Regions from separate parts of the Homo sapiens genome. Here region 1 is linked to region 2. The links come from fine-mapping of genetic effects on plasma protein levels. A gene starts in region 2. The other region holds a variant in brackets. All regions are shown on one strand. Distances are between the middles of the regions.

Evidence for each region. A credible set is the group of variants that fine-mapping cannot tell apart. PIP is the posterior inclusion probability: the model's chance that the variant is causal. Protein levels are from antibody-based Olink assays in UK Biobank. Linkage for the fine-mapping came from a reference panel and not from the study's own genotypes, which makes the PIPs less certain.
Region 1: its variant is the best candidate, but not a certain one, in a credible set for the plasma level of the SLC4A1 protein (UK Biobank, PIP 0.64).

The regions. Positions count from the first base shown.
Region 1 is chr17:44,224,117-44,233,575 of GRCh38, forward strand. It overlaps the pseudogene SHC1P2. Among named protein-coding and RNA genes, the nearest start is that of UBTF, 9.2 kb to the left of the region's middle. The variant G/A (reference allele first, on the strand shown) is at 5,902.
Region 2 is chr17:44,263,541-44,272,999 of GRCh38, forward strand. It overlaps SLC4A1 (solute carrier family 4 member 1 (Diego blood group)), which reads right to left and starts at 4,595. Exons shown (of 20, transcript NM_000342.4): 1 at 4,514-4,595.

The sequences.
Region 1 (9,459 bases), 39 kb before region 2:
ACAGGGAGTAATTTTAGATGGTATACCAATATTTTCAGATTTATGTATTTTAATGCATATTGGAAATGTTCTGTTTTTAAATTTTTATTTAAGATGGTATAAAGACACACGTTTTTGGGCCAAGAATGTTATTGTCCCTTGTTACTTTTTTTTTTTTTTTCCTTGGGACGGAGTTTCACTCTTATTGACCAGGCTGGAGTGCAATGGCGCGATCTTGGCTCACCGCAACCTCCACCTCCTGGGTTCAAGCGATTCTCCTGCCTCAGCCTCCCAAGTAGCTGGGATTACAGGCATGCACCACCACGCCCAGCTAATTTTGTAATTTTAGTAGAGATGGGGTTTCTCCACGTTGGTCAGGCTGGTCTCGAACTCCCAACCTCAGGTGATCCGCCCACCTTGGCCTCCCAAAGTGCTGAGATTACAGGCGTGAGCCACTGCGCCCGGCCTGTCCCTTGTTATTTTTTTATTGCTGTGTAAGTCAGAGATAGTAAAGTACACATACTTTAAGTATACAACTTTTTTTTTTGAGACGGAGCTTTGCTCTTGTCACCCAGACTGGAGTGCAATGGCACGATCTTGGCTCACTGCAACCTCCACCTCCCTGGTTCAAGCAATTCTGCCTCAGCCTCCCGAGTAGCTGGGATTACAGGCATGCGCCACCACGACCAGCTAATTTTTTTGTATTTTTATTTATTTATTTTTTGAGATTGAGTCTAGCTCTGTTGCCCAGGCTGGAGTGCAGTGGCACGATTTCAGCTCACTGCAACCTCCGCCTCCAGGTTTCAGGCGATTCTCCTGCCTCAGCCTCCTGAGTAGCTGGGATTACAAGCGCCCACGACAATGCCCAGCTAATTTTTGTATTTTCAATAAAGACGGGGTTTCGCCATGTTGGCCAGGCTGGTCGCGAACTCCTCACCTCAGGTGATCTGCCTGCGTCAGCCTCCTAAAGTGCTGATTACAGGCAGGAGCCACCCAACCCAGCATAAGTATACAGCTTGATGAACTTTTAGGTATGTATATTTAGTATCATATTACATATGTGTATACCATGTAACCAGCACCCAGATCAAAATATCAAATATTTCTAGCATTTAGCAAGTTTTTTTTTTTTTTTTTTTTTTTTGAGGTGGAGTCTCACTCTGTCACCTAGGCTGGAGTGCAGTGACACGGTCTTGGCTCACTGCCAGCTCTGCCTCCCGGGTTCGTGTCATTCTCCTGCCTCAGCCTCCTGAGTAGCTGGGACTACAGGTGCCCGCCACCATGCCCGGCTAATTTTTTTTTTAATTTTAATTTTTAGTAGAGACGGGGTTTCACCGTGTTAGCCAGGATGGTCTCGATCTCCTGACCTCGTGATCCACCTGCCTCAGTCTCCCAAAGTGCTGGGATTACAGGCGTGAACCACCGCACCTGGCGCATTTAGCAGGTTTACTCAGTATTCCCCTCCAAGTATCATCAATGTTCTGAGGTTCTGAGCTCTATCACCATAGACAAGTTTTACCTGTTCTTGTAGTATTTCCATTGTATAAATATACCACAATTTATCCATTCTACATTTATTTATTTATTTTAAGGTGAAGTCTTGCTATGTTGCCCTAGCTGGTCTTGAACTCTTGAACTCCTGTTTTTTTTTTTGTTTTTTGTTTTGTTTTTTTGAGACGGAGTTTCACTCTTGTTGCCCAGGCTGGAGTGTAATGGCACGATCTCGGCTCACTGCAACCTCTGCCTCCCGGGTTCAAGTGATTTCCGCCTCAGCCTCCCGAGTAGCTGGGATTACAGGCATGAGCCACCACACTTGGCTAATTTTGTATTTTTAGTAGAGACGGGGTTTCTCCATGTTGGTCAGGCTGGTCTCGAACTCCCGACCTCAGGTGATCCGCCCACCTCAGCCTCTCAAAGTGCTGGGATTACAGGCTTGAGCCACTGTGCCCAGTCTTGTTTTTTTCTTGAGACAGAGTCTTGCTCTGTCACCCAAGCTGGAGTACAGTGGTGTGAACTCGGCTCACTGCAACCTCTGCCTCCCAGGCTCAAGCGCTTCTCGTGCCTCAGCCTCCCAAGTAGCTGGGACTACAGGCCTGCACCACTACTCCTGGCCACCTTTTTGTATTTTTAGTAGAGACTGGGTTTCACCATGTTGCCCAGGCTGGTCTTGAACTCCTGACCTCAAATGATCTACCTACCTTGGCCTCCCAAAATGCTGCCTCCATCTCCCAAACTGCTAGGATTACAGGTGTGAGCCACCGCACCTGGCCATAAGTTCAAATTAATTAAAATTAAATAAAATGGAAAATTCAGTTCCTCAGTCACATTTACCATATATCCATGGCCCTATGTGTCTAGTGGCTACATTATTGGATACTAGAGATATAGAACATTTCCTAGGCTGGCGCGGTGGTTCACGCCTGTAATCCCAGCACTTTGGGAGGCCGAGGTGGGTGGATCACCTGAGATCAGGAGTTCGAGATCAGCCTGGCCAACATGGTGAAACCCTATCTGTACTAAAAATACAAAAATTAGCCTGGCGTGGTGGCAAGCACCTGTAATCTCAGTTACTCGGCAGGCTGAGGCAAGAGAATCACTTGAACCTGGGAGGCGGAGCTTGCAGTGAGCGGAGATCCCACCACTGTACTCTAGCCTGGGTGACAGAGCAAGACTCTTCTCAAAAAAAAAAAAAAAAAAGAAAACAATAGAGTGTGGTGATTTGGGGTACATGGTGTGAGGGGATGGCAGGATATGAAGGAAAGGGCAATTGAGTAGAGCTCTTAGAGGTAAAACTCACAAAAATATAGGGCCCCATCTGACCTAGTCCACCTGCAATTTTTATTTTTTATTTATTTATTTTTTATGTTTAGAAGAAATACGGACTTTAATGAAGAGTTTTCCTTTTGCTACAAGTGAGACCCGGGGAAACATCCCAACAACGACAAAAGGAGGCCAGGATGGAAACAGCCCACTCTCTCTTATCCACAAGGCCTAAAGAGAAAGCCCGGCTTGCTGTCGTGTGTCCACTCCGGGCCTAGGCAGGGCTGCGCCTGTAAAAGGTACTCAGGAACTGCAGGTTTTGCATTTCCCCTTTGTGAAACTAACATGCATTTGGGCAAACTTCTGCCTCCCAGTCTCGTGGTAAGAGGCCCAAGTTTTTCTAGTCCTAGGTGGAAATCAGTTTCATCTGCCTCAGGTCTCTGGTATAAATAATAATGCTGCTGATCCCAGTTACCTCACAGGCCTGGGCAACGAAAATGCCAAGAGCTGCAAAAGGTCTTGGAAAATTCAAAAAGGTGATGTATAAATTTAATAATTGATTATCATTTTGTGCTCAAGAATAAGCCATGGAAAACAAAATTAGGAAAGTAAGTCTATATCCCTAAAATATATGCATATAAAATTTTAAAAGAATGCAGTTCCAACTCTGCAGATAGTATTCAGGGATGGTCTACTGCTTTAGAGTCTCAATGCCCCTTTTCCCACCTCCACAAAATCCACCTGGGAGAGTTTACTGTACACGAAGCCCAAATTCAGTCACCCCCCACCCCTCCTCTCCCAGAAAGGGAGGCAGGGCAGAGGCTCCAGGAGGAAGGGCTACATTTTGGCTATAGAGTACAATAGGCATGCATCATGGGAGGGCAGGGTTTATGAAATGGATTGAGGGGCTCTGGCCAGGAGGCACTGAGCAAGGGACAGGTCCATCTTCCCCCTGGCTGGGAGGGGGGCTCTGGGACAATCTCTAAGGGTTGCATATCCCCAGGGAGAGGGGATATATGCCATTCTTGTCTCTATTCTCCCAACCCAAACCAGAGAGGGTGCTGAGCAAGGAGAAAACAGGGTCTCAGAAGCCAAGAAGGTGTCGGCATCACTGTCATTGAATTCAGGGACCCATGAACTCTTTTTTTTTTTTTTTTTGAGATGGAATCTCACTCTGTCGTCCAGGCGGGAGTGTAGTGGTACAATCTTGGCTCACTGCAACCTCCACCTCCCGGGTTCAAGCGATTCTCCTGCCTCAGCCTCCTTAGTAACTAGGATTATAGGTGCATGCCACTACACCCAGCTAATTTTGTACTTTTAGTAGAGACGGGTTTTCGCCATGTTGGCCAGACTGGTCTTGAACTCCTGACCTCAAGTGATCCATCCGCCTCGGCCTCCCAAAGTGCTGGGATTACAGGTGTGAGCCACCACATCTGGCACGAACTCTTTGCATAAAATATCTTCAGACCTAGGAGGTGGTCAAAGGCACAAAGTTTAAACATGGGGTGGGGGTTGTGGAGAGGTGTCTGGGGTACCCTGAAGCTCAGAGGTGTGATTTGTTCCCCCTTGCCCAGAAGGGTGACTGCTCCACTGGGCCTATCACCACAGGACATTTTCCATGACAAGCACTCACCTTCTTGGGGAAGGGACATCGGGTTGGCACAGGAAAGGCGTAGGTAAGGGGCCACTCTGTCCATTAATACTTCGGGTGATTAATGTTTGGGGAGAAGCAAGATTCTCCCCCAGGCTTCTGACTCAAACTCTCTCACTTAGCTGGATACTAAACCCAGTGTCCACACTACCCTCAGCTCTGACACAAGGCCAAACCCACAGAACACTCCCAAATGAGGTCCCGAGAGTTAGGGAATAGGGTGGAATCTTCTGGAAGAGGGCGCTGGGGCAGATCACAGTTTCCACTTCACAGGTTGCTGTAGATACAGTTCACTGCCCACAGAGATGATAGGCCAGTGATTGTCCATGTGGTAGCTGATGAGGTGACTGACACTCTCTTTTTTTTTTTGAGACGGAGTCTCGCTCTGTTGCCCAGGCTGGAGTACAGTGGCGTGATCTCGGCTCACTGCAAGCTCCGCCTCCTGGGTTCACACTATTCTCCTGCCTCAGCCTCCTGAGTAGGGACTACGGGCGCCTGCCACCACGCCCAGCTAATTTTTTGTATTTTTAGTAGAGACCGGGTTTCACCGTATTAGCCAGGATGGTCTCGATCTCCTGACCTTGTGATCTGCCTGGCTTGGTCTCCCAAAGTGCTGGGATTGACACTCTCAAAGCAGTGATCCTTTGTCCAAACCAGTCCTTCAGGGTCCACCAATAGCAGGTGCTTAGGCAGCCCACTCTGCAAGCCAGTAAGCACATACTGGCCTTGGTCATGCTCTCCCGCACCAGGAAGTCGCCATGGAGCTGCAGCAATGCCTCAGCCTCTCGCTGGCTCAGCTTCCCGTGGAACCAGGGCTCCCCTTGGAGCTGCTCAGCCATGGAAACCACTGGGGAGGGGGAGGCACCCAAAGAGCATCTTTAAAGGGCTTCATGTCAAAGAGGTCCCAGGGTGCACTGCGATTGATGGCAGGATGGGGGGGCCTAGCACCACCTTCTGCTTGCCGGGCCTTGTCTAGGTTCTGGACGTTGATATAGGGATCATTGAAGAGCTCTCTGCCTGCTGGACAGGGTGGTGGAGGTGGCATCTGTTTGCGGACTTCTGGATCTCCCCCAGCAGGCTATCCCACAGGCAGTGTAGCTCCCAAGTGGCTGGGGGTCCAGACACTGGGTGGAGTGGGTCAAGCAGCCTCTGAAGTGGCTCCTTCCCGAAGCCTCATGTCTACCAACTCCCCAAGAGAAGGTTCCTTCCCAGGGACGTCATTATAGTACTAATGGTCAGGTGGCTCTTCCTCCTCCTCATCCCAAGCTGATCCATCAAAGCCAGCCATCCTGTCTTGGGGGTGAGCAGTTGGGGTGGGTTCGTGAGGTATTGTTTGAAGCACAACTCGAAGGCCTGGCCAATGGTGCTAATGACATCCTGGGAGGGCCTTTGGGACACTCCAGAATGTGGCAGGCTCTCTGATTCACAGGGTCTTTGGCAACGTAGGCAACATCCTCAGCTGTGTCCTGTTTGCAGTCTGCGGCCATGAGGTTGAGGCTGCTGGTGGAGAC[G/A]GTGAGAGTGATTGGCATTCCAGCAAATTTCAGGTTACTCCTTCCCAGGATAGAGCTGAGCAGGCAGCTACAGGGCTTTCTCTTCCTTGTCACCCCCTTCACACCCAGCACAGCATCACACACCAGACTGATGGCCTGCCTCCCTGCGTGACCTGAGTTGGGTGTTGAAGTCGAGGGCACGCATTGATTGCAGGACCTCCATATAGCCCATGGAAGTGAGCCTGGGCCATTAGCATCCTCTGCTACAACAGCTGTGGATTGGAGCTAGCAAAGTGAGGACAGGAAGGAAGTGGTCCCAGCGGACATAGAGCAGGGCCAAGAGGAAGAGCAAAGCAGGGCCTCATGGAGTCTCCGCACCGCACCACAGGCCGATTTGATTCCAGATCACACCACTGCCTGCTTAGGTCACCACTCCAACTTTCTCCCCTGGCTCTGCCTCCCTAGAGAAACTTTATTACGCTCACTTCCCGCCTCACTAACCCCTGACCCTCTCCCCCTGCAGTTTTTAACTTTCTGAGTTGCTCACATTGAGCCTACAGCAATTTGTCAATTACACTTCAGGTTTTTCTACCCTGGCACTGGTTCCTGTGGAGGTTACTGCTTGTGAGTTTCTGCTCCCATCAACTGTGATTCTCAGGCTGGGCGTGGTGGCTTATGCCTGTAATCCCAGCACTTTGGGAGGCTGAGGCAGGAGTATTGCTTGAGCCCAGTAGTTCAAGACCAGCCTGGACAACATAGGGAGACCCCATCTCTACCAAAAATTGAAAAATTAGCTGGGTGTGGTGGCTCGTGCTTGTAGTCCCAACTATTAGAGAGGCTGAGATGGAAGAATCGCTTGAGCCCAGGTATTTGAGGCTGCAGTGAGCTATCATTTTGCCACTGTACGCCAGACAGAGCAAGAGCCTGTCGAAGAAAAAAAGAAATTGTGATTTTATCTGACTGTCTCACCAATTTAGGGCATAGCAATTTGCTGTGTGACCCCACTTCTCTGATGGATCTAAGAAGGGTTGATTTTTCAGTTTGTTCAGCTTTTTACTTGTTTGAATGTAGAGGTGATTTCCAAGCTCTTTACATGTTAGACTGGAAACTCTTCTTCCTGTTTTTTTTTTTTTTTTTTTTAAGAGATGAAGTCTTGCTATGTTGCCCAGGCTGATCTTGAACCCCTGGGCTTATAATCCCAACTCCAAAGTGTTGGGATTATAGGCGTGAGCCACCTTGCCCAGTTGAAATCCTCTATTTCGTTTTGAGTGAATTTGGCTGTTTGTGTCTTTCACTCTGTTTAAAAAACTATATATGGGTTGGGTGTGGTAGCGCATGCCTATAATCCCAGCACTTTGGAAGGCCAAAGCAACGGGATTGCTTGAGCCCAGGAGTTTGAGACCAGTCTGGGCAACATAGCAAGACCCTCTCTCTACAAAAAAATACAAAAATTAGCCGGGTATAGTGCCCTCATGCCTGTGATCCCAGCTACTCAGGAGGCTGAGGCAGGAGGATCACTGGAACCCAGGAGGTTGAGGCTGCAGTGAGCCATGATTGCTCCACTGCACTCCAGCGTGGATGACAGAGTGAGACCCTGTCTCAAAAGAAAAGAAAAAAGAAAAAAAATTCCCACACAGCACAGATGATAGGATTTTTTTTATCCTGACGTATAGGAACTTTATTTTACTTTTAAATTTATTTAATTAATTATTATTATTATTTTTTGAGGTGGAGTTTTGCTCTTGTTGCCCAGGCTGGAGTGTAGTAGCGCGATCTCAGCTCATTGCAACCTCTGCCTCCCAGGCTCAAGCAATTCTCCTGCCTCAGCCTCCCAAGTAGCTGGGCGCACCACCACGGCCAGCTAATTTTTGTAGTTTTAGTAGAAACAGGGTCTCACCATGTTGGCCAGGCTGGTCTCAAACTCCTGGCCTCAAGCGATCCGCCTGCCTCAGCCTCCCAAAGTGCTGGGATTACAGGAGTGAGCCACCGCGCCCTGCCAATAGGAATTTTACCATTTCGTTTAAGTTGTCAAATGTATGGGTATTTATGTTTGTAGTATTCCTTTGTTATTCTTTTAATGTTTTTAGGGTCTGTAGTGATGTCTTCCATTTCTGTTATTTATAATTTGTGTCTCTTCTCTGTTTTTCTTGGTCAGTCTGACCAAAGGTTTATAAATTTTACTCATTTTTTTTCAGAGAACTAGCTTTTCGTTTCATTGATTTCCTCTACTGTTTGTTCTTAATTTCATTGATTTTTTTTTTTTTTTTTGAGTGACTCACTCAGTTACCCAGGCTGGAGTGCAGTGGTGCTATCTCGGCTCACTGCAAACTCTGTCTCTCAGGTTCAAGCGGCTGTGCCATCTCAGCCTCCCGAGTAGCCAGGACGATAGGTGTGCACCACCATGCCCGGCTAATTTTTGTATTTTTATTAGAGATGGGGTTTCACCATGTTGGCCGGGCTGGTCTCGAACTCCTGACCTCAAGTGACCCACCTGTCTTGGCCTCCCAAAGTGCTGGGATTACAGACCTGAGCCACCAAGCCTGGCCAATTTCATTGATTTCTATTCTATCTTTATTATTTCCTTCCTTTTGTCTGCTTTGGGTTTAATTTGCTCATTTTTTCTAGTTTCTTATAGCAGGAGTTTAGGTTATTGATTTGAGATATTTCTTATTTTCTTTTTCTTTCTTTCTTTCTTTCTTTCTTTTTTTTTTTTTTTTTTTGAGATGGAGTCTCACTCTGTTGACCTCAAATGATCCGCCTGCCTTAGCCTCCCAAAGTGCTGAGATTACAGGCGTGAGCCTGCTCGCCTGGCCTCTTATTTTTTAATCTAGGTATTTAATGCTCTGTTTCCCCCTAAGCACTACTTCATTGCATCTCACAAATTTTGATATGTTTTCATCCTCCTTTAGTTCAAAATATTTCTCAATTTCACTTATGACTTTAGCTTTGGTCTATGGGTTATTTAGAAGTGCATTGTTTTACTTTCCAAATACTTAGGGATTTGTGGCCTGGCGCTGTGGCTCATGCCTGTAATCCCAACACTTTGGGAGGCCAAGGCGAGCAGATCATTTGAGGTCAGGAGTTTGAGAGCAGCCTGGCCAACATGGTAAAACCCCGTTGTCTCTATTAAAAATACAAAAATTAGCTGGTCATAGTGGCACACACCTGTAATCCCAGCTACTTGGGAGGCTGAGGCAGGAGAATTGCTTGAACCCGGGAGGCGGAGGTTGCAGTGAGCCGAGATCGCGCCACTGTACTCCAGCCTGGGCGACAGAGAGAGACTCTATCTCAAAACAAACAGAAACAAATATTTAGGGATTTGCTAGATGTCTTTCTGTTATTGATTTATAATTTAATAATGTTATGAACATAGGCTATGTTTTCTGTGATTTCCATTCCTTTAAATTTGTTAAGGTTTGTGTTTGTGGCCCAGAATGTTGTCTATTTTAAGGTGAATGATCCATGGGCATTTGAAAAGAATATGTATTCTGCTGTAGTTGGGTGGAGTGTACCCTAAAGATAAATTAGGTCAAGTTGGTTGCTGGTGCTATTTAGGTGTTCTATATCCTTCATGATTTT
Region 2 (9,459 bases):
CCTTTGCACATCCAGCTGTCCATATCCCGGACACCCTCCCCCCAATACCTCAGACCTTCTCACATCTCGGCCCAAATGTCTCCTCTTCAGAGGCCCTCCCTGGCCACCACCTTGACCCAATCTGTCATGTTCTGGTTTCTTTTCCCTCCCTCCTTCCCTCCCTTCCCTCCTTCCTTCCTTCCTTCCTTCCTTCCTTCCTCCATCCCTGCTTCCTTCCTTCCTTCCTCTCTCTCTCTCTTCCTTTTTGAGACAGAGTCTCACTCTGTCACCCAGGCTTAGAGTGCAGTGGCATGATCATAGTTCACTGCAGCCTTGAACTCCTGGGCCCCAGGGATCCTCCTGGCCCAGCCTCCTGAGTAACTGGAATTATAGGCATGCCACAGTGCCCAGGTAATTAAAAAAAAAAAAATCTGTGTGTAGAAACAGGGTCTCACTATCTCAGTGTGGGCTGCTGATTTCTTTCTTCTTTTTTATTTTTTTGAGAGCGGGTCTCCCTCTGTTATCCAGGCTAGAATGCAGTGGCATGATTACAGCTCACATCAGTCTCAAACTCCTAGACTTAAGTGAACCTCCCACCTCAGCCTCCAGAGTAGCTAGCACACACCACCATGCCTGACTAATTTTTAAATGGTTTCTTGGTTGGGCGTGGTGGCTCACACCTGTAATCCTAACATTTTGGGAGGCTGAGGCAGGCAGATTGCTTGAGCTCAGGAGTCCGAGACCAACTGGGCAACATAGTGAAACCACATGTCTACAAAAATACAAAAATTAGCTGGGTGTGGTGACGTATACCTGTAGTCCCAGCTACTTGAGAGGCTGAGGTGGGAGGATTGCCTAAGCCTGGGAGGCAGAGGTTGCAGTGAGCCAAGATGGCACCACTGCACTCCAGCCTGGGTGACAGAGTGAGACTCTTTAGAAGGAAAACAAAACAAAACAAAAAAACCAATACGTGGTTTCTTGATTGATTTGTGTTCATATTATCTGACAATGCTTTTGGAAGGGAAACTACCTGAGTGCGAAGACCCTGTATGTCCCATCCCCACGAAATTCACTACTCCTAGCAGAGTGGCTGTCACGTAGTAGGTGCTCAATAAACATTTACTGAATGATTGTAAGAATGGCTCCCTATTGCGGGGTTGGGGCTCTGAGACTGGGGAGCCAGGATGACTAGGCCCCAGCCAAGAGGCCTCTGAGCTCGGGGTCTCAGTTTTCTCAGTTGTGTCCCTAGCAGAGAGGAAGGTGTGCCTTCCCCAGGAATGTGAGGGCAGGTCCAAGGGGAGGACAGGGGTCACCTAAGGTGGCCCCAGACTGGGTGTGGAGGTGCCTCTTTTCCCTCCTCGCCCACTACAGCACAGGGCATTGAGGTGACAGGCAATTGGGTCGGTTCAACAAAGGTTCCCACTCTGTGCCTGGCATTGTGTTGAGCACTGGAGGCTGTGGGGAGGGGGTGCCGAGCACTGGGGGCTGTGGGGAGGGGGTGCTGAGCACTGGGGGCTGTGGGAGGGGGTGCCGAGCACTGGGGGCTGTGGGGAGGGGCTGCTGATCACTGGGGGCTGGTGGGAGGGGGTGCTGAGCACTGGGGGCTGGTGGGAGGGGGTGCTGAGCTGAACAAGGCCCGTCTCTACTCTGGGGAAGCTCCTAGCCGCGACAGGGAGGCAAACTGGGAACACAGGGCAGCCTCAGTGCTTCCGAGGTGACATGGACCCCAGGGGCCGAAAGTGCTGAGTGCCAAGGATCTGTATGGCAGGAAGAAGAGCAGGACGCGTTTGCAGCACTCGGGGGTGGAGTCACCGGAGGAGGGGTCACTGGCGCTAGCCTAAAAACACAGGTGAGTTTTTCTTGTTTTTGAGACACAGTCTTGCTCTCTCTCCCAGTCTGGAGTGCAGTGGCGCGATCTTGGCTCACTGCAAGCTCCGCCTCCTGGGTTCACGCCATTCTCCTGCCTCAGCCTCCCGAGTAGCTGGGACTACAGGCGCCCGCCACCACGCCCAGCTAATTTTTTGTATTTTTTTAGTAGAGACGGGGTTTCACTGTGTTAGCCAGGATGGTCTCAATCTCCTGACCTCGTGATCCACCCACCTCGGCCTCCCAAAGTGCTGGGATTACAGGTGTGAGCCACCGTGCCCAGCCAAGCACTGGTGAGATGTGAAGGGCTGGGAGTCCAGATGTGAGGCATGCCTGGGTGGAGCTGAACAGGTGGGCTGAGCAAGGTGGGAAAATGCCACGTGAGGGCATGGGGCAGGGAGCCTGGCCAACATGGTGAAACCCCATCTCTACTGAAAATACAAAAATTAGCCAGGCGTGGTGGCGCATGCCTGTAATCCCAGCTACTCAGGAAGCTGAGGCAGGAGAATCCCTTGAACCAGGGGGCAGAGGTTGCAGTGAACCGAGATTGCGCCACTGCACTCCAGCCTGGGCAACAGAGCGAGACTCCGTCTCAAAAAAAAAAAAAAAAGAAAGAAAGGGATGTGCAAACAGCCTTCTTTCTGAGGAATGGGTGACCCTGCAGTCCTGGGGGTAGGGAGGGGATTACTGGATCTCACCAGACTGGAGAATGGGAGAGACCCCTGCCTTGGCAGGTGGGGCAAGTGATGGGGTGCGGGGGAGGGGTCCTGGACCTGAGGACGAGGTAGTCCCTACTGCAGGGCTTGGCTTTGCTCCTGAGGACCCTGATGACCCACCTCTTCTCTCTCTTTTTCCTCCTCCCTCTCTGCTTCTCCCAAAGTTCCTCTTTCTCTTCCATCTTTATTCACTTTCTTCCTTCTCTGGACTTGCCCATGCACTTTCTTAGGCCTCAGATGCTAAGGCCTCCAGGGTGTCTAAGCCTTAGGTACTAAAAGTCCCACCCATGGGGCTGGGACTGTGGCCTTGGTTGCCTATCTGAGGAGTGGAATGGTCAGAGGGGCCCTCAGAGCTGCAGAATCCAGAGGTCCAGGCTGCCTCTCTGCCACTGACTGGCTGAAGGGCCTTGGGCAGCTTCCAGCCTGTAGGCCTCAGTCACCCCATCTGTACAATGGGAGTGCCTTCCTGCCAGGGTTCTGAGACATCAGTGAGAGAGAAGAGGGGAAAACAGAGGTGCCTTGAGCTCAGTTGGAGACTTACAGGGCGCACCCATGACCCAGATTGCCACCCGCCAGCCAGGCCGCCCCCCAGCTGCAGGCCTTGTGCTGCCTAGCACTGATAAGGGCCTGGACCCAGATCGCTGCCCCAAGTTTTGGAAGTGCACCAAACACCTGGCCAGCTAGCCAGCTGGCCAGGGCCAGGCCAGATAAGGGTGAGCGGGACATCTGAGCCTAGAAGGTATAGCACAGCTGGGAAGACACGGCGGGAGAGGGGATTGACCAGATGACAGGGACAACTTCCTAGTGGTATGGCACCACCTTTGTGTAATCAGCCCGAACTGCACAAAGAACTGTACTGCCTTAACTCTTAGAATCCCCAAAGCATTCTGTGAAGTGGTTTGGGGATTCTAAGAGGAAGAAGAGTAATGTCATTAATCCATTCTACAGATGCGAAAGCTGAGGTTCAGAGACATTTACCTGCTTCAGCCACCCAGCAGGTAGGTATCAGAGCCAGGTTACAGCCTGGACTACCTGACTCCAGCCACATCCCTAAGCACTATGCTAAGTTGCCTCCAACAAAACAACTGTTAGCTGGTTTAGAGTTAGTTGTTAAGATCACGGACTCTGCAGTCGGACTGCCTGGATTCAAAGCCCAGCCCTGCCATTTACTAACGGCGTGTGACTTCAACTCTCTGTGCCTCAGTTTTCTCATCTGTAAAATGGGGGTGATGATAATGATGCCCATCTCATAGACCTGTTGTAAGCATTAAGGAAATTTACATTTGTAAGGGGCTTAGAACAGTGCCTAGCATATAAGGAGCGCTATGAAAATGTTTGCTGTCATTATCCCTTGCTGCTGGGGTTACAGTCAGACTTGCCATCTTCATTTCCCCTCTGATTTGCCCTCAGTTCCCATGGAATTAGCCTGAGCTAAGTGTTTTGAGATTCTCATGTGGTAGGAGGCTCTGCAGTTCCCTCCAATACTGACCACGCTGGGCGTGGAGCCAGGTGCCCCAGGTAGACCCCTGGAAGTGTCCCAAAGGGGATACTGTGTCAGCTGACATCCTGCCTCCTAGGTGGGAGAGGGGGTGGTCTGAGGACCCCATTAGGAAGGAAGGAGTCTGGGGTGGACAAGACCTGACCCTGTGGGATCCAACAAGCTGACAAGGGCCCATACCTGGAGGGGATCAGATACCCCCCGCAACACACGCACCGGAGCCACACATACCTCTGCTGCCATTGACCACCTGCCACCCTCCTCTTTTCAGGTGCCAATGGGCCTGTTCCCTTAGGGGCAACATATGCATGGTAACATTCTCACCCCACCCACCTGCACCCCCTTGGAGGTCAGGAGCCTGGCCCACCTGGGCATAGATTCAGGCTGGGCACCTGTAGAAGCCCTCAGGGCAGGCACCGAAGGACCATCCCCAGCCCCTCCCTGCCCTGCCCACCTGCTCACGAGCCTCAGGGTCCCTTGGTGAAGTCCTGCAGCCGCTGGTGCCCTCTGCGACCAGCTACGTTCCCACTCGTTCTGACAGCACCAGCGCCCCAGGGGCAGCTCGCAAACCCCTGACTCATGCCCCCGCCTCCTAATCTGCCCGCCCCACTGGCCCTGGGAGCCCCTTCCCACACCCCCCACCCCGCTCCCACTGGGTGCCCAGTAAACAGAGTTATCTCTTACCCACATCTGGACAGCTGTGAGTCTGGCCCACCCCACCCGCCTGGCCAGCCCCCAAGGCCTCTCGGGGCCCTCCTGGTCCCCATGGTTCTCCTGACTCTTCCTTTGTGGATGAAGGTTTGATCGCTCTGTCCTCAGGGCTCCCAGTGCCCTGGCAGGAAGGCACCAGCCTCCAGAGGTCCCTGTCCTGCCTCTGTCCATCCTCCACTCTGGCCAGGCCCTTCTGCTCTGGCCCCAAGGTGCAAGGGCGCCTGCTCCTCTCGTCTCTCTTGGTATCCACGCTAGGACTCACTCCTCCTCTGCAGTTTTCTCCACAGGGAACTGCTCAGCACTCACGGGGCACGGACAGCCCCCTCCCCTCCTTGATCCAGACTAGGATGCCCCAGCCACATTCTCCCCAAGACCCTGGCTGGTTCTAAAGAGCTGGCTCCTGGACACTAAGACACTGACATTCAGTCAACCTGAAACAATGTCAGCTCAACAAAACAACCATCCCCACACCAAGCTCTTCAACTCACAAAGCTCTAATGTCTGGGCATACTGGCTCCTCTGTAGGCAGCCTGGCTCAGGCCCCCAGGCCAGAACAGCCGCATTCTCAGCCCCTGCCATGCCCCTCCCCTTCAGTTCCCACCCCTACACCCCCAGTTTCTCTGCTCTGGGGGGTGACCAGAGCCTGGTCACCTCTTCGTAGGCTCTGGTTGCTAAAGAGGCAGAGACTGAAAGATGAGTACAGATCAGCAAGAATGAAGAGGGGTTTTCAAGCAGACAGAAAGGGGTGTTGTGGCCATCGCTCTGGGCACAGAGAGGAGGGTGTCCTAGTACAGCTCCGGCATGGACTGGCTGAAGGAACCTGGACAAGTCCCTGGCCCTCTCTGGGCTTCTGTTTTCTCATCCGTAAAGTGAGAGTGTTGGGTTATGTGGCCACCAGCCTGAAGTTCAGACTCAAGCAGAAGAAACTCAAACACAGGGACACACAGGTGGACAAATCCCGCCACTGCAAGACCATTCACTATCTGCACCACAAGCCTGCCAGGGGCTGAGTCCTGTGGAGAGAGAAAAGGGGAGGGACACGGGTCCTGAGGCAGAATCCTGTTTATGGAGGACCTCGGTTCCAGGAATTATGCTGAGGCCTTCATCTTGTGGTCACGCTGGATTCCTACAAACCCCCCACTTCACAGAGGAGGAAACAAAGCCACAGAGAGGCTTTCCCAGGAAAAAGAATGCCCAACGGACCAGCACCTGCCCCGTGCAGTGCACCATGCCTGGACTTCACACGCTCTAGCTTGCCAAGCTCTCTAAGCCCATCTGAGGACAACACTGTTTACGATGTTTATTCACCTCTCACAGAGAAAGGGCAGCAAAAGGAGAGCAGTGACTTGCCCAAGTCCTCTGGGCTGGTGAAGCCAGCGTGGGCACTCCGACCTGCTAATCTGCCTGGACAGCTGGTGTTCTGCCAGATCTGAGCCCCTCCCACCACCCAGGCCTTGGTGCCGGTCAGGAACAGAGAGAGGCCCTGGCTAAAGGGGGCTGGAGGTGCCTTCTCCTGCTCCAGCTGGTGGGATCTGTCCCAAACCCTGGGCCCACACTGGGTTGGCTTCCTATGGCCTGTGGCAGTGAGTGCCAAGTGAAGACCTTTGACTCCTTGACCCAGCCAGTGTGCCCAGTCCCCTTGCCCCTCTGCCTGCCCTAGGAGTCAGAGACAGCTGAGTGCAGGGGGCAGCAATGGGGCACCTCTCCTGGGGCCCGGGAAGGACTGACAGCTGGCTGGGGGTGGAACAACAAATGGCATCATCTGGCTTAGGGGGAAAATCTGGCCAGCTGTTTGGCTGTTCTGCAGGCACCACCCCCTGGCAGCCCCACCAGACAGCCAGGCAGAGGCACAGCAGCTTGGACGCTGGTTCTTTCCACTCACACCACATGTTCTAGATCATTCTTGTTGCCCTGGCTGAATGTAGATGTTTCTTTTCTAACTCTGCCCAATGTCACATTTAATCTTTTTTTTTTTTTTTTTTTTTTTTTTTTTGAGGCGGTGTTTCGCTCTTGTTGACCAGGCTAGAGTGCAATGGCGCAATCTCGGCTCACTGCAACCTCCGCCTCCTGGGTTTAAGCGATTCTCCTGCCTCAGCCTCCCAAGTAGCTGGGATTATAGGCGCCCACCACCATGCCGGGCTACTTTTTGTATTTTTAGTAGAGATGGGATTTCACCATGTTGGCCAGGCTGGTCTTGAACTCCTGACCTCAGATGATTCGTCTGCCTCCCAGAATGCTGGGATTACAGGTATAAGCCACTGTGTCAGGCCTCTTTTGTTTTTTGTTTTTTTTTGAAATGGAGTCTCACTCTGTCGCCCAGGCTGGAATGCAGTGGCTCAATTTCAGCTCACTGCAACCTCCACCGCCCGGGTTCAAGTGATTCTCCTGCCTTAGCCTCTTGAGTAGCTGGGATTACAGACGCCCAACACCACACCCAGCTAATTTTTGTATTTTTAGTAGAGTTTCACCATGTTGGCCAGGCTGGTCTCAAACTCCCGACTTCAAGTAATCTGCCCACTTCGGCCTCCCAAAGTGCTGGGATTACAGGTGTGAGCCACCTTGCCTGGCCCACATTTACTCTTGTTTATGCTTTTCCAGGAAGAGGTGAGGGCAACCCTCACTCATTTTATTCCAATTTGGACTTGGGTCAGTTTGATTCATCTGAAGGCCTCCATGCGCCTGGCACTAGGCTGCCCTCTGGGGAAGCAAGGCACGAGGGAGTCTTACCTCCCTTTGACTATGCCCCGGGCTGGACAGAGATGGTCGTGGTCAGAAAGATTGGCACCTGGAGGGCTTGAGCAGAGCCCCAAGATGCCTTGAGCTGTGCCCTGAGTGGCCCTTCACACACTCACAGCCCATCCTGCTCTTTCCTTGGAGTCCCTCTTGTCACTACTGCTCTACCACTTCCTAGAGCACTAAGGGAGGAGCCCTCAGATTCCCCTCCCCAAGGTCCATATGTGTCCTCGTTCAAATTTATACTCCTTTGGGAGAAAGCCGGGAGCCCAGGCAGATGTCAGCAGGAATGAAGTGAGCTGAGGGCGAACCCCGTATGATGTTATTTCAGAGCATACAGCTCAGATCACGGGTTGGGATGGGTTGTCCCAGAGGGAGACTCTGTGGGCAGAGGGTGGAGTTCTTCTGAAAGGACAAGACTTTCTCATTTTCTTTTTCCTTTTTCTTTCTTTCTTTCTTTCTTTCTTTCTTTCTTTCTTTTTTTTTTTTTTTTGATACAGAATCGCACTCTGTCACCCAGGCTGAAGTGCAGTGGCGTGATCTCGGCTCACTGCAACCTCCACCTCCCCGGCTCAAGTAATCCTCCTACCTCAGCCTCCTGAGTAGCGGGGACTACAGGCGCACACCACTACACCCAGCGAGTTTCGTATTTTTTGTAGACAGGGTCTTGTTATGTTGCCCAGGCTGGTCTCAAACTCCTGGCCTCAAGTGATCTTCCCACCTCGGCCTCCCAAAGTGCTGGGATATCAGGTGTGAGCCACTGCACCTGGCCTTACTTTCTCATTTTCAATCATCCTGGATGCAGTCAGCCCTCAAGTGAGAAGTGAGGACTGGGTAGTGGCCTTAGAAGGGCCAGCTGCTTTCTCTATCTTACTCTAAGGAGTAGAAGCTGAGACTAGGTAGGACGGGGGTTCGATGATGGTTAAGGGAACTGTCTCTTGCAATGGGATTGGCAATGAGGTGTCAGCTTGGCCTGTGACTGCTGAGGGCAGACCCATTCCATGTGAGCAGACCCTTACATCTTTTCTTCCATGCTCAGCCGGTAATTCTCAGCTGCTATCCTGAAGTCCTCAGCAAAGCTTGCTGGACTGGATCACCTGCCTCTGTTACCCCATGCGGATGGAGGGGAGGGTCTGAGACCATGTTTGGGGCAGAGCAGGCCATGGTTTGCGGTGGCAGCTAAGGTGAGTGGACATCCAGATGGCACGGGGGAGCACCTGAAGGGAGGTGTGGTGGCTGGAGCCAGGAGGCTGGAGGAGGGGACGTGGTCTGGCCAAGGTGGCCTGGAGGGACCTATGTACATTGCTCGGTGAAGATACGGCTTTCTGTGCCCTCATAGACTAGGGACTCAGACCCCTGGGATTTTGCATTAAAGGGAAGTGTCCCACGGCTGGGACATGTGGGCTGTAGAGGACCTCCTCGGGTTGGAAGCCCTGTGTGATCTTGAGCTGACCACACCCTCTCTCTGGACTTCCTTTTCCTCTCTGGACTGTTGTGACCACATGGGATGACAGGTGGGAAAGAGCTTGAAAATAGTCTTCTCTAGATGCAGGCAAGGGGCTGAGTAGTGAACGGGAGAAGGAGCCACGGGGCTCGTGTATCAGGCAGCCTGAGCCAAGGCAGCAGGGCAGGGACCACGCAGCGATAGGAGTTCATGTCCAGCAGGGAGTGTATACAAACCTCAGAGGGAGGATAAGGGATGTAAACAAGGGATGGGCCCGGAGGGACAAGTAATGCGGGAAGTGTGAGGTCCCCAGGGAGACCATGCTGGTGGAGGGCCCAGAGTTGTGAGGTGCAGCCCTGAGCAGTCTGGGGGTGGATGGAAGTGGGGCAGGGTGCACACACGTTAGGAATGGACCAGTCATCATTATCACCTGGTGAGGGAGTGGGGAGGTGCGGGGAATCAGGCGGGAGAGCTGGGGGATGGGGCTGGAACTGGAAAGGCTCTCAGAGCTG